2 linked regions of the Homo sapiens genome follow. The protein of the gene in region 2 interacts with the protein of the main gene of each other region in a pairwise test. Each region holds a gene or a part of one and is shown on either strand. Other genes may lie near its edges.

The links. The genes of interacting proteins can lie anywhere in the genome.
Region 1: the proteins of HCN1 (region 2) and INA interact in binary tests that used the Homo sapiens proteins (3 or more experiments, as listed by UniProt).

Annotation. Positions count from the first base shown.
Region 1 is NC_000010.11:103,280,131-103,287,157, forward strand, and holds part of INA (alpha-internexin), read left to right. Parts: intron 1-6,904; coding exon 6,905-7,027. UniProt on the Homo sapiens protein: Class-IV neuronal intermediate filament that is able to self-assemble. It is involved in the morphogenesis of neurons.
Region 2 is NC_000005.10:45,644,372-45,651,398, forward strand, and holds part of HCN1 (potassium/sodium hyperpolarization-activated cyclic nucleotide-gated channel 1), read right to left. Parts: intron 1,238-7,027; coding exon 814-1,237; intron 1-813. UniProt on the Homo sapiens protein: Hyperpolarization-activated ion channel that are permeable to sodium and potassium ions. Displays lower selectivity for K(+) over Na(+) ions.

The sequences.
Region 1 (7,027 bases), on a different chromosome or scaffold from region 2:
AGACAATGGTAGCGTCATCCAGACATGGTCTACAGGAAACAAACAAAAAACAACAACAGAGAAACTGCAGCATCTGCAGCTCTGCGGTGCTGCCCCCATCAGCTTGAGCCTTTAGAGCCACAGAGGACCTGCTGATGGGAGTGGAAGAGGAGGTCAGACAACAGAGAGCTGGTTCCCTACTCCTTGGGACCTAAGGCTAAGGTGGAGCTCAAGTCTTACCTGCAGATCCTAACGGCCTGATGCCACAAGGGTGTCTCTGACTGTTCTAACAATCTTAGCAGTGCTGACCAAGGTGAAAAGCCTCCCTTTCTACAGTGAGATTTAGCCATTGTTTTCTTGCCCTCTCATCTCATCCCCACCTTTCACTGCAGTAATGGGAGGCTGTTCTCCTTCTTCTGCTACAGAGATTAGTGGTAGGGCCATTTTTCTTTTCAAACTTGGCACCCTCTATGAAACATAGGAAGGCCCCATTAAAGTCCCATCTTCTCTGCCCCAGATAGCTGATAGCCTATTTAAGGAGAGAAAGCTTCTTACACTTTTGAAAGGGTAAAAAATGATTCACGGTGACACAGTAAGTACACAATAGTGGATGAGAGAGTCTGAATCAGGCAAGAGAAGAGATTAGGAAGAGCTAAGGCTATTGTCTTCAAAAGCCAAATGCAACTCCCCTCTGCATAAAAAGCTGATGGGGTTTCCATTTCTGACATAGGGCAATGCTGGTGCCTACATAGCCACTTCGGCACCATTAGAGTCCTAGTTCTGTTAAAGATGTCCAAAGACATTCTTGGAGGGTACTCAGGGTCTCAGACCTCTACTGTGGTCAGTCTTGGAAAGTTGAAGCTTTCCTTGAAAGACCTTGCTGAATGATCAAGATCACCGCAGGTTAATGCTCTCCAGGGAGACAAGCCAAGTCTTCTCTTTTTTCTCCATTATGAGATTGGAGTACAGCCTAATTAAATAGCAGGAAGGGGCTGGCCCCTTGGAGACTGGAGGTGACAGTGGCTGCATATAAATCCATAGCTTGATAGATCCATTTCTAAAATTAGCTACATTTGATCTTTTTTAAGCTCTTCCACCTGGTTTTTGTTTCATTTTGTTTTGTTTGCCCCTCCCTATCTTACTGTATTACTGTCACCTGGGCTACCATGATAGCATCTTTATAGAAAAAAATTTAAACTAGTGGATCCTAAACCCAGTGACACTCTAAGGTCAATTGGGGGCTTAAAAAAATTATCAGGCCCACTCCCAAAGATATGGATTCAGCAGTTCACAGGTAGGGCCCGGGAATATGCATTTTTCAATAAAAGTGCTGCATCCTGTTGGTCCTCAGACTGACTTTGGAGTACATTGATCTAAACCACTTCTTCCAGTAAAGTAGTTTACGGAGATACGTATAATACAGGATTTTCGAGTGTGGTGGAGGAAAGAAAAAGATGGGGACAAAGGAAAGGTAGGAGTGAGAATAAAGCACGCATGGTGAACCACAAATAAAAATCCTCCGTCCCCACTCAAGTTGATTATGCAGAGCAGTAATTCTAAATAGCCTCTTTCAATCAGACTGTGGGGCACTCACTACTGCCTCCCTGACCCAGGGCCCCCAAACGTGCTGAAATCCACAGCTCTGTCGTTCTTCTTCACCACTGCAGATGTTAGTGTGGCCATTCATTTCTCTTACTCCACCCGGCATCCTTCCAGCCACGGGCTGCGATGCTCAGACGAGCTAAGACGATGCTCAGCGTTTGTCTTAGCTCCTCCAGGAGAGACCCCAGCTGGAGCTGGGCGTGCCGCTCTCCGGTTCCCTCAGGCTAAGCCGGCAGCAGCTGCGTGGTTGGGGGAGGGGACAGACTGCAGCGCTCTGCTCAGATCTCGAGCTGGAGGCCATCTTTGGCAGGGCTTCTGAAGGGCAATGCAAGACACAGCCTGATGTGGGGAGGAGAGCACAAACAAAGAGACCAGACATTGAAGAGCAATCAATGGTCAGAACACAGCACACTTCCTTCTGAAAGGAGCAAAGTTGTGCTTTTCTCTACAGTGATCTGTAAAATAGATATATGAAATCTGCAACATAGAAGTTCAAGGAAATCTCATCTGTCTAGAACTCAGCTCCCCAACCACCTCTTATTCAGAAAACACAGCTGTGAAACAAAAATAATGTTTTAAGCAAGGACCTAATTAACCTGCTGATGAGACATATCATCTATCTCTAAGCCAAACATTAGGAACTTGGCACCTCTACTGCCCCCAGCCTATTCATTCTTAACACGATTTCAAAATGCTTTTTTATTTGGTTTCAAGACTGCAGCAAGATGGAGAATGGGGACCACTGGAGTCAGGCATTGTTAAGAATGAGCAGCAGCAGATCCGTTCATCTTTCAGAACAAAGAAAATCAATGAGCATCAACACTAATCCAAACACCGCACTTTGGGGCCATTTAGGGTAGAATTAAACAGCCTGATATACCTCGAATGACCTAAAAGATGTCACCGAATTATTTTTAAAATTGATTATTATCATGACCCTTAATTGCTGTGGAAGGTGGCATTATGTTTAGTGTCCTGATTGTGAGTGGTATAAGCCACTTTAGAAAGGCTTTTTATTCAAAATTGTTATTAAAAAAAAAAATCTGGTGCTTTAAGGTATATGCCTCCAACTATCCAATATTAAAGTGTTGTTATATGTTACTTTTCGTAGTTATCTAAGGGGTTGGTAATAGTGAGGGCTTGTGATTAATTTGTCTATATCATCAAAAGGATAGAGGGCCATGTGGTATGATATTATCAAGAATAAAAATCACTAACATTTATTGAGTTCTTCCTGTGTGCCATGCTGTTCTGATGCCTACTAATTTAACAGATAATGGACTCATCATATATTAATGTATATGTGAGATATATTAAATTGAAATCCTAATTTGAGGATCTCAGAACACCTTAGAAAAAGAGTAAACATAACTTTCCGTATGCAGAAGTAGAAGATTGGAAGGAACTAAAATGTAGAAAACTGGCTGAGGTCCAATGGATGTTAGTGGCAGAGCAAAAACTGCAACCCAAGTTCCTGATGAAATCCTCCTCTTATCTTCATATAGCATTCCTCCTCCTTCTTTGCATAATCATATTTTCTTCTTTCTCCTTTTTCCCTCACTCTAGACTCTTTTCCCTCTTACCACAGTAATATTGATTCTCTTGTCAGTAGCTAGAGGGTCTATGTCAGTGATTCTATGTCAGTAGCAGAATTGATTATAACCTCAAATAGGAACTATCAGGTAAAATTTCTTGGTAAAAATCTCTTTAAGGCCTCATGATCTCTTAACACACTTTGAAATATATGCATCACGGTCCAGTATAATACGTATTTTTCCTACTGACTGTCATTCCTTGTTCTGTACCCATCAGTCAATTGAGACTCCTCTTTGCAGTATTCCTGTCAATATTTATAGAACAGGTAGGTGGTATGAATTTTAATTCTGCAAATTCTCTTGATTTGGAAGTTTGTACCCCCTGATGTCTCAGCCCTACCTTTCACCATTGCTTTATCATTCTCACACAAGGGGAGTTTCAAGGGCCTGTCAACACTTACTTTCTTGAGGTTTCTGATATGTTTATCTGCATCACTGTTTCTTTTTTTTTTTTTTTTTTTGAGATGGAGTTTTGCTCTTGTTGCCCAGGCTGGAGTGCAATGGCACGATCTCAGCTCACTGCAACCTCTGCCTCCCAGGTTCAAGTGATTCTCCTACCTCAGCCTCCAGAGTAGCTGGGATTACAGGCACACGCCACCACGCCCAGCTAATTTTTGTATTTTTAGTAGAGACCATAGTTTCACCATGTTGGCCAGCATAGTCTCAGTCTCTTGATTGACCTGAACTCCTGACCTCAGGTGATCCACCCGCCTCAGCCTCCCAAAGTGCTGGGATTACAGGCATGAGCCACCATGCCCGGCCCTGCATGACTGTTTCTTAAAAATAACCCCCAATCATTGTGTCTTTTTTTTTTTTTTTAAGACGGGGTCTTGCTGTGTCGCCCAGGCTGGAGCACAGTGGCGCCATCATAGCTCACTTCAACCTCCGCCTACCGGGCTCGAGCAATTCTCTCAGCTCAGCCTCAAGTGATTCGCCTGCCTCAGCTACCCAAAGTGCTGGGATGCCCTAGAGATGTTTTCTTGTTATCGCAACTGGGAGAGGGAAGTATGTGCTTCTGGCATCTAGCCAGGGATGTTACTAAATATCCCGCATTTCACAATAACAAATAATTAGCCAGCCTAAAACATCAACACTGCCAAAGTTGTAAAACTCTGTTATAGAGGAAAGCAACAGAAAATAAACTAGTATAAACCAGTAAATTGCCGGGGCCGGACACTGTGACTCATGCCTGTTATCCCAGCACTTTGGGAGGCTGAGGCGGGCGGATCACGAGGTTAGGAGTTCAAGACCAGCCTGGCCAACATGGTGAAACCCCATCTCTACTAAAAATACAAAAATTAGCCAGGTGTGGTGGTGCACACCTGTAATCCCAGCTACTCAGGAGGCTGAGGCAGGAGAATTACTTGAACCCAGGTGGTGGAGGTTGCAGTGAGCTGAGATTGCGCCACTGCACTCCAGCCTGGGTAACAGAGCAAGACTCCATCTCGGAAAAAAAAAAAAAGAAGAAGATAATTTCATATAATGGTAAGAGCTGAGAGCAGGGTGGCTGCATTCAACTGAGTGCTTTTTTTCTAATTTGCACAAGGTTCCTGCATGGGCCAGTAGCTGCTCTGGCTTAAGGTAAAATAAAGTGCTGGGTTGGTCGAGGATGGATACTTAAATTGGATGCAAATGAAGACCTGTCTGAGGAGAGGACATTATATTTTATTTTATTTTATTTTATTTTATTTTTTGAGATGGAGTTTCATTCTTGTTGTCCAGGCTGGAGTGCAATGGCACGATCTCGGCTCACTGCAACCTCCGCCTCCCAGATTCAAACAATTCTCCTGCTTCAGCCTCCCTAGTAGCTGGGATTATAGGCATGCACCACCACGCCCGGCTAATTTTTGTATTTTTAGTAGAGACAGAGTTTCTCCATATTGGTCTGGCTGGTCTCGAACTCCCAACCCCAGGTGATCCTCCCGCCTCAGCCTCCCAAAGTGCTGGGATTACAGGCATGAGCCATCGTGCCTGGCAGGAGAGGACATTTGAACTGAATCTTTTTTGAGACAGAGTTTTGCTCTTGTTGCCCAAGCTGGAGTGCGGTGGTACGATCTCAGCTCACTGCAACCTCTGCCTTCCAGATTCAAGCGATTCTCCTGCCTCAGCCTCCCAAGTAGGTGGGATTACAGGCGCTTGCCACTGCACACAGCTAATTTTTGTACTTTTAGTAGAGACGGGGTTTCTCCTTGTTGGTCTGGCTGGTCTCGAACTCCCGACTCCAGGTGATCCTCCTACCTCAGCCTCCCAAAGTGCTGGGATTACAGGCATGAGCCATCATGCCTGGCAGGAGAGGACATTTGAACTGAATCTTTTTTTTTTTTTTTTTGAGATGGAGTTTCGCTCTTGTTGCCCAGCTGGAATGCAGTGGCGCGATCTCGTCTCACTGCAACCTCCCCCTCCTGGGTTCAAGCGATTCTCCTGCCTCAGCCTCCCAAGTAGCTGGGATTACAGGTGCATGCCACTGCACCCAGCTAATTTTTGTATTTTTAGTAGAGACGGAGTTTTGCCATGTTAGCCAGGCTAGTCTTGAACTCCTGATCTCAGGTGATCTGCCTGCCTCAGCCTCCCAAAGTGCTAGGATTACAGGTGTGAGCCACCACACCCGGGTGAACTGAATCTTCTATGACAAGGAGTCGGCCATGTAAAGACCGGCATTTTAGATAGAGGAAATAACAAGCCTGAAGGGCCTGGGACAGCAATGAACTTGGTATAGTTAAGGAGTAAAAGAAAAGACCAGGCTGGGCATGGTGGCTCATACATGTAATCTAAGCACTTTAGGAGGTAAAGGCAGGAGTGTCTCTTGAGGCCAGGAGTTCAAGACCAGCCTGGACAACATAATGAGACCTCATCTTTACAAAACAAAAATCTTTTTTAACTAGCCAGGCATGGTAGTGTACACCTGTTAGTCCCAACTGCTTGGGAGGCTGAGACAGGAAGATCGCTTGAGCCCAGGAATTTTGAGGCTGCAGTGAGCTGTGATCACACCACTGTACTCCAGCCTAGGCAACAGAGCAAGACCTTGTCTCAAAAAAAAAAAAAAAAAAAAAAAAAGAATTCCTTCTGGCTGCTCAAGGACTATAAATATATAAATATAAAGCGATTTCTCTTCCATGCCTCGGTGTTTTAAAAATTCTGTGGAGTATTTCTGCTTTCTCCTTACCTATAATGTAAAATGCTCTCAGTAAAGTGACTGATTAGCAGGCTTCTAGGAAATCATCAAAATGAATGGAGGCAGAGAGGTCTTCCTGGAAAGCTCTCTGTGCTTTCCACATTCGGAATTTTCTGAATCTAAGCTGCTAACCTGAGGCTTTGGGTTTTGGAAAGCACATGCTACAACAGAGTTATTTAGCAGCAACACAACAAGCAAGGGAGGGATGGTAAGTGTAAAAAAAAAAAAAATCATCTCCATGTTCAGTTCAGAACTATATGCCGTGTGGCTATCCTGAAAAGGGCAGGTGTTCACTTGCCCTCTGGGTAAAAGTTCCCAGTCCTCACCATGAGTCCAAATCTCCTGGGGACCTTTATGAAAAAAATGCAAATGCTGGGACCCCACCCCAGAACCAGTGAATCTGGATCTGGACTCAGGGACAGACCTGGATATAAGCAAGTTATAAGTTCATTAGATGATTTTAATGTGTAGTCAGGGCTGGGAATCCTTGCCTTCTGGAAATCTTGAGGAATTTCAGCTGGTTTGGCCTAACTATTTTGGATATGTTACTTTTCAGGATAGCATTGGGCAGCTGGAGAATGATCTGAGGAACACCAAGAGTGAGATGGCACGCCACCTTCGGGAATACCAGGACTTGCTCAATGTCAAAATGGCTCTTGACATTGAGATAGCAGCTTAC
Region 2 (7,027 bases):
TTCAGACTTTGAAGATAGGGATATGAACTCCTTTGCTTGATGATGGTTTAACTCAGATCTTTGGAAACTCCAGTTGGCTGAGCCCTCTCAGGTCCCACCCACTGCCTAACAACAGATGCTCTATTCAGCAAAATATGGGCCTGATTGGTCAGATTCACTCCATTTATTCACTATACTCTTTGTGTTTTCTATGTACTAATGTCCCTCATGAATATGTTCCTTTTTAGTATTATGAAATGAACTAATAGGGAGAAACTAAAATAAGTTACTATAGGCAAGGCATAACAATAAGCAAAATTAATATGCTAAAATCAAAGCCTTTATATATACAATTTGGAAATAAAGAAACAATCTGTTTTACCCAATCATGAATTCAATGAAACTTCAATATTAGAGGATACAAAAACCACACTATCTCACAGAGCTAATGATGTGCCAGATTAGCAATCAGACCCTACACATCTTTATCAAAATAATGGTACTTGATGTATTTATATTAGATTAAAAAAAACCAAGGTGGGAAAGGGGTTGTATTGATCAAGATAATAATTGCTGATTAAAGTGCATTTATTTAAAAATAAAATAAATTGGCATAAAACGATCACTATTTTTTTCAGTTCATTCAAATCCATTATTTGATCATATATTTTAGGGATACAAATATATCACTTATGCATGGAAAAGAGTCGTCGAATACATTTTTCTACTTGAATTTCATAAAACTCATTACACATTGCACAGTTGTTCATTGTAAAACAGCCATAATTAACAATTTCATGATATAGATTTAAAAAAGAAAAAGATGCATCTTACCTCTTCCCATTGATGTATGTATCTAATTAACCTTGAAAGTCGTAATAAACGCAAGAGACTGAGAATTTTTGTAAACCTCACAATGCGAAGTGCCCTGGCTGTCTTGTAAACTTCAGAATCCATTCCTTTTTCTACAATAAGAAAGATATAATCCACTGGGATGGATGAGATGAAGTCAACCACAAACCAGCTTTTTAAATAATTCATCTTGATCACTTTGGGGTCCAGGATGATTTCAGAACTGTCTTCATTGACAGTCCCAGTCCTAAAATTCATGATCAGGTCCAATAGGAAAACTGTATCTGATGCCACATTGAAAATAATCCATGGTGTTGTTGTTTGCTCTGTAAAGAATGTGATTCCAACTGGTATGATGACTAGATTTCCAACCATCATTATAAGCATTATTAAATCCCAGTAAAACCTACAACAAATAAAAAAATCAGATTTTAAGATATAGAAAATAACCAGCCTATCCCCCCCATGAAAAATTATTACTGATATATAGTGAGATCAATAAGTAAAAGAACAAAGAAATGATTTTATTTTTTAAAAATGTAATTCCTTAAATGGCTATATGTTTAAATCTAAGTAAAATTAATATATTCTTAAACCAAGGCATTATGATTATGGAATTCTAAAAATTATGTGATATGAAGCATTATACAAATAAAATCAAAAACATTCATACCCCCATTTATTTAGTAAAGAGGCAAAAAAAGCAACCTACCTTATACTTAATACAAAATATAGACAGAAACTAGAAAGAAGTATAAGATTAGAAGATCTGTAAGAAAGCCTTTGGGAAGGCTCTTTGAAGATGTTTTGAATTATTTTAGATGTCAATTTACCAATCATAGATTAGAAAAAAAAACCCAGAAATAAATAGGATACTCTAACAATTTTAGTTATGCAAATTTATCTCAAGGAATACAGATTAGTTTTGCCATGGAATCTAGAATACACTGGAGTTTTGCAGTACTCCAAATATTTTATGCTTTATTTTTCTTTTGCTTGAAATAAGAAAACTAATTTTGGTCTGATGCTAAAAAGAACTGAGCAAGTTCTACTCCATATTTGAAACTAGAATCTACCTAAAATTTGTGTTTTTATTACTACTCTATTGAACAACTACTTCAAATATATTGCCACTACTTTTCCATAAAAATTCTTTCTTTCTTTCTTTTTTTTTTTTTTTTTTTTGAGACGGAGTTTCATTCTTGTTGCCCAGGTTGGAGTACAATGGCACAATCTCAGCTCACTGAAACCTCCGCCTCCCAAGTTCAAGTGATTCTCCTCCCGCCTCAGCCTCCCGAGTAGCTGGCATTACAGGCGTGCCACCATGCCCAGCTAAAAAAAAATCTTTAACATTTCTAATTTAATTCTGAACATGCCTATGACTACTAAGTACCTTTTGAAATATTCTTATCTCAACTTACATTAAAATTGAGAGAAAACCAGGAACTTCATTGCTGGTTTATATAGCTTAACTAAATTAACTAAATTCACTTGACATAACTATAGTGTTATTTTTATAAGGGTTCTTTCAGTCTGTTGACACTCCTATTAATCAAATATTTATAGTTGTTACAGTATATACTTGCAAAAATGAAAAAATAAACACAACTGTATAATCATGAAATGTATCCAGAAACATGAGTTACTTTATCCTAGTCATAGGTATGTTATTTGAGGAGTTTTGTATAAACAATATAAACTTCCATGATAAAAATGTCTGTTTACCAAGATATTTTTGTTTTACATGAATACTCCTACTTAGACTATTTGAGCTACATTTTGGTGAGGTATACATGTGTATAAAGCTTTCAAAGTTACTATCATCTGTAATTAAGAATGACTCCTGAAATAAAAGTACTAGTTGAAGAAAAAACTATAATAGGCCCTATCTCCCCTGTCTCCAGCCTCAGGATGTTGTAAAGGATAAGCGTTTGTTATTTTGAAGATTTCACCAGTATTTCTGTCAAAACTTGCCTGCAATTTTTGAAACAACTGTACAAATACCCATGTCAGCCATACAACATGTACTGGCAGTTTAAATGAAATGGTTTTATATCTTCTCACAATGGAAATGCAAAATATACCATTCAACACAATAAGGACAGAGGAGAGATGTAGAGGAGGAGCAATATTGTAACAGCTATTTCACAAAGAAATGGCACCACTAAACTCTAAAATGAAACTGTGTGTACCCTGAGGATTTTTCACTTCTGGGCACTCCTATCAAGTCCCTTCTGTAAGCTTCTCTCTCTGCCCTCCCCTTCAAGGCTGTTGTTCCCCTGGGTGTCACACATAGCCCTTTCATCTTCTATTCTACGCATTGCCCTTGAGAAATATTATACACTTATCCATGCCTTTAATAATTAATTTGTAACTGATGACCCCAAAAGCTTTATCTTCAGTCCATTCCTATCTTCTAAGCCTCCTAATCCTCATAATCAGTAGCCCGTTAAATCTCTCTCCTGGCATATCTCACACTCATCTCAAACAGCATGCCTAAGCTCAAACTCATAATCTCCTCTCCCACATATATTCCTCACATATCCCCTATCTCAGGGAATGGAATAACTCTATGTGTGATTTGCAAGCCAGAAACCATGGAGCCATCCTAAATAACTCCTGGCCCTAAATCTGCTCAAACCCATATCCAATTGATCACCAAGGCTGTTTAGTTCTCACACCTAAATGTATGTTGTATTCATCCATTTGCACTTTACTATTCCCACTGCAGCTGTCCTCATTCAGAAAGTCTTACCAGCTGTTTTATTTAAATACAAGCCAATTAAATGATTTTATTTTACATTTTCTAACCTGTTCAAAGAAGATTATTACAGAGCCAAATATACAGGGTTTTATGGATTAAACGAGACGATATATGCTAATCCCAGGGCCTGGCATATAATTGTGGCACACAATGCCAGTGGCCTAGTCACTACCCATTTACCCTTCCTCACTTACCACAAGAAATCCAATTTTGTGGGAAGCACCCAGCAACCTAATGAAAAATACTCATTTCTACAGACATCTTTGCATTTCTGTAATTAAGATAGAAGCTTTTTTTGAAGGAAAACTAATATCCCATCCCTCAGAGCAATAGAGATGAAAAGAAAGCACCATTCATTCTTTACTACAGTAATAATGCTTATCACACTATAGCTTTTTGCTAGCAATACTTAATATGGTCTGAAGCCATTAGATATCTCAATACCAGTAGGAAACTCTGTTAAACCCCATAATATCCTTTTAAAGTAACATCGACTCTATTTTGCAGACAAAACCACAGGTGCTTTTATATGCTTACATAATATTGTCTTTAGTTAGCATGGATTCATTCCTTAGGTAACAAAAAAATACAATCATCACCTGTTCTAGAAGTGCAATATACCTTCTTTAAAAAAAGTAAATGGGTTCTTAAAAATTGACCTCATGAAAATCTCTTACCTAATTGCCCATGAGTCTTTCTTTCTAGCTCTTTACTCTCAAAATTTCTCTTAGATACCCAAGCTCCTTCTTTACCTTAACTCTCAGTTTCTATGTCTTGCACATTTTATTACCATATCATCTTTCCTATCTATCCCCTCCTTCCATTCTTATTTCTCTGGTCTGGGCAGAGCCACCTTCTGCTTGAAATTCCTCATGAGTCTCCTGCCTCTTCTCTCTAATCAAGTCCCACCACTCCCAAAGCAACTTACCTAACAATCAATTTGCTAGGTCAACAACCAGCACTGACTCTCTCAATTAAACGAAAACAACTTAGTCTGTTTGTCAAGGCACTCCAGGATATGGCCTCCTCCTGCCTTTCCATCCCCCTCTTTTAACAACTGAGGACAAGCATCCCATATCTCAGGCAAGAGGGCACTTGCTCATGCTTTGCCCTCATGCCTACCTGGGTACACATACAGGAGATATGATTACTTCCATTCCAGCTATCTTTCTACCTAACAGCCCTCAAATCCCCTCAAATCCCTTTCTACTTCTCCCTCAAATCCCATTCTGGCAATGAGTTTCTTAGTTTGTTTGTGTGTGAGTGTGTGTTTTATTTTTGTTTTAGTAGACTTTATTTTTAGAGTAGTTTTAGGTTCATGGAAAACTTTAACTGAGTGTACAGAGATTTCTTATATACCTCCTGCCCCTACACATATATAGTCCCTCCCCATTATCAACATCCCCCACCATAAAAAAAAAATTGTTACAAATGATGAACCTACACTGACATCTCATTATCAACCAGAGCCCACAGTTTACATTAGGATTCACTGTTGGTGTACATTCTATGGTTTGGGCAAATACATAGAGACATGTATATACACCAGTAGTTTCACTGCCCTAAAAATCACATGTGCTTTTCCTATTCATCCTTCTTTCACCTCATTTGTTAGTTTTTTTTTTTACAACCCTCAGAGCAGCATATATTCTCAACATGTTTCCTATTTTTGATTCTGTTACTATTTGTATGTGTTTCTTCCATCATTACTGATTCAAGTTATTTAAAGTTCAAAACTGTATCTTGTCTTCTATATATTTTCTGCTATAAGATAGATAGCATCTAAGATAGCAAATGTTAAGAATATTTATTAATTGGATTTTTAATGAAAACATACACTTTAATGGGGGATATTTAAAGAAAACCTTTTATAATAAGCCAAAGAGCCATTAACAAAGTAAATAATAATTTCTTATTTGTCTTGCATATAGATCTGGATTTTACTTATTAAGGGTTTTCATTTTTACAACAGAATATGTTAAAATAAATAAAATAGGAAACAAAGAGGTTAGAAATATGCTCTTAGGTTAGATATCTAAAAAACAAAAGAGTTGTGTATTTGAGATGTTTTTACATATCATATATCTACCTACTTCTATTCATCCTGCCCCAGAGAAAAAGTATTTGTAAAAGAACTTGCTTGGACTTTGAAGGCAGACCAGAGTTAAAATCCTAGCTCCACTAACTGGATGATTTGGAGCAAGATATTTAGCTGCCATAAACTTTCATTTTTTTCTACTACTCTTAGAGTTACTCTGTGTGAGGACTACATGCAATAGTGTATGCAAAGTGTAGCATATAGAACCTGTATGAAGAGAAGCCACGACACAAAAATGATAGCTTCGGAATTCTATCTTACACTGGAATCTCTGTGGTATCCTGAATAAGGTGCCAGTTCTCCACAAAGCCTAACGTCAACAATGATAGGACTCTTTACTTATTTCTCCTTCCTTATAATAAAACCCCATCAACTGAAGGGGATGGAGAAAGAAACTGTTACGTAGAAACTTCCTTTCTCTGAAATACCAGCAAAGCAGAGAGGACACTCACTGGAAAACTAATGATCTTTATAATTACAGCAAAATCATAATCTAGGTAACTATTTTACCTTTTTCACTGGAAATATATAGAATAGGCTAAATAAAATATTATCACTAATAAGTATAATATTAACTACTAATAAAATAATTTTCATAGGCCACTTATTTTTTATGTAGAGTGTATCTTCTCCCTATAGGTTTCTAGAAGAGATAAAGTGGCGTTGTAAAGATTAGTCCATGATACTAAATCAAGAAGAATTTCAAATTCAGTCATACTTTTTTTTCTCTACCCACATGCAACCCTTTAAGGCTTGTGGTAAGGAGAACTCCTCCTTGTTCCTAACAAGAACTTCCCACTCTTCTTAAGGTTTCCCAGCCCCAGTTGCTTACGTTATCTTCTCTACTTGAAACAGCCTGATGTCAGACATTTCTAACCTAAAGCTTTAATGAGATTTAAATAATCGTCATACTTTACTACTACTAAAGGTGCTTGTATTTACAATATTTTCTCTAAATATTGAATGAAAAATTCTTTTCTCCCCTCTCTGTGATGAAATAAATATTTGTCATTGAGCAGAATTGAATAAAAATATTTATGGTTAATTTCCTGACACGGTACCAGATTTACAGTCGCTCCTATTTTATCTACAGTTGAAGTCAAATAATGTCATAAATCTGTCCCCTCAACTCACACTTAAGATTCACTTCTAAAAGAAAGAAATAGAATTCCCAAAAGATAAATGCTTTTGATAACTTCTCATGAAATATAGCACCTCTTTGGCTGATATACAGCCATAGTGTGCTGCTTCTGTGATCTGTTACTGGTTTCAAAATTAGTGGTATTCTGGGAGACTAATTAACATCATTAGCCACAATATAAAAGTTTGGACCA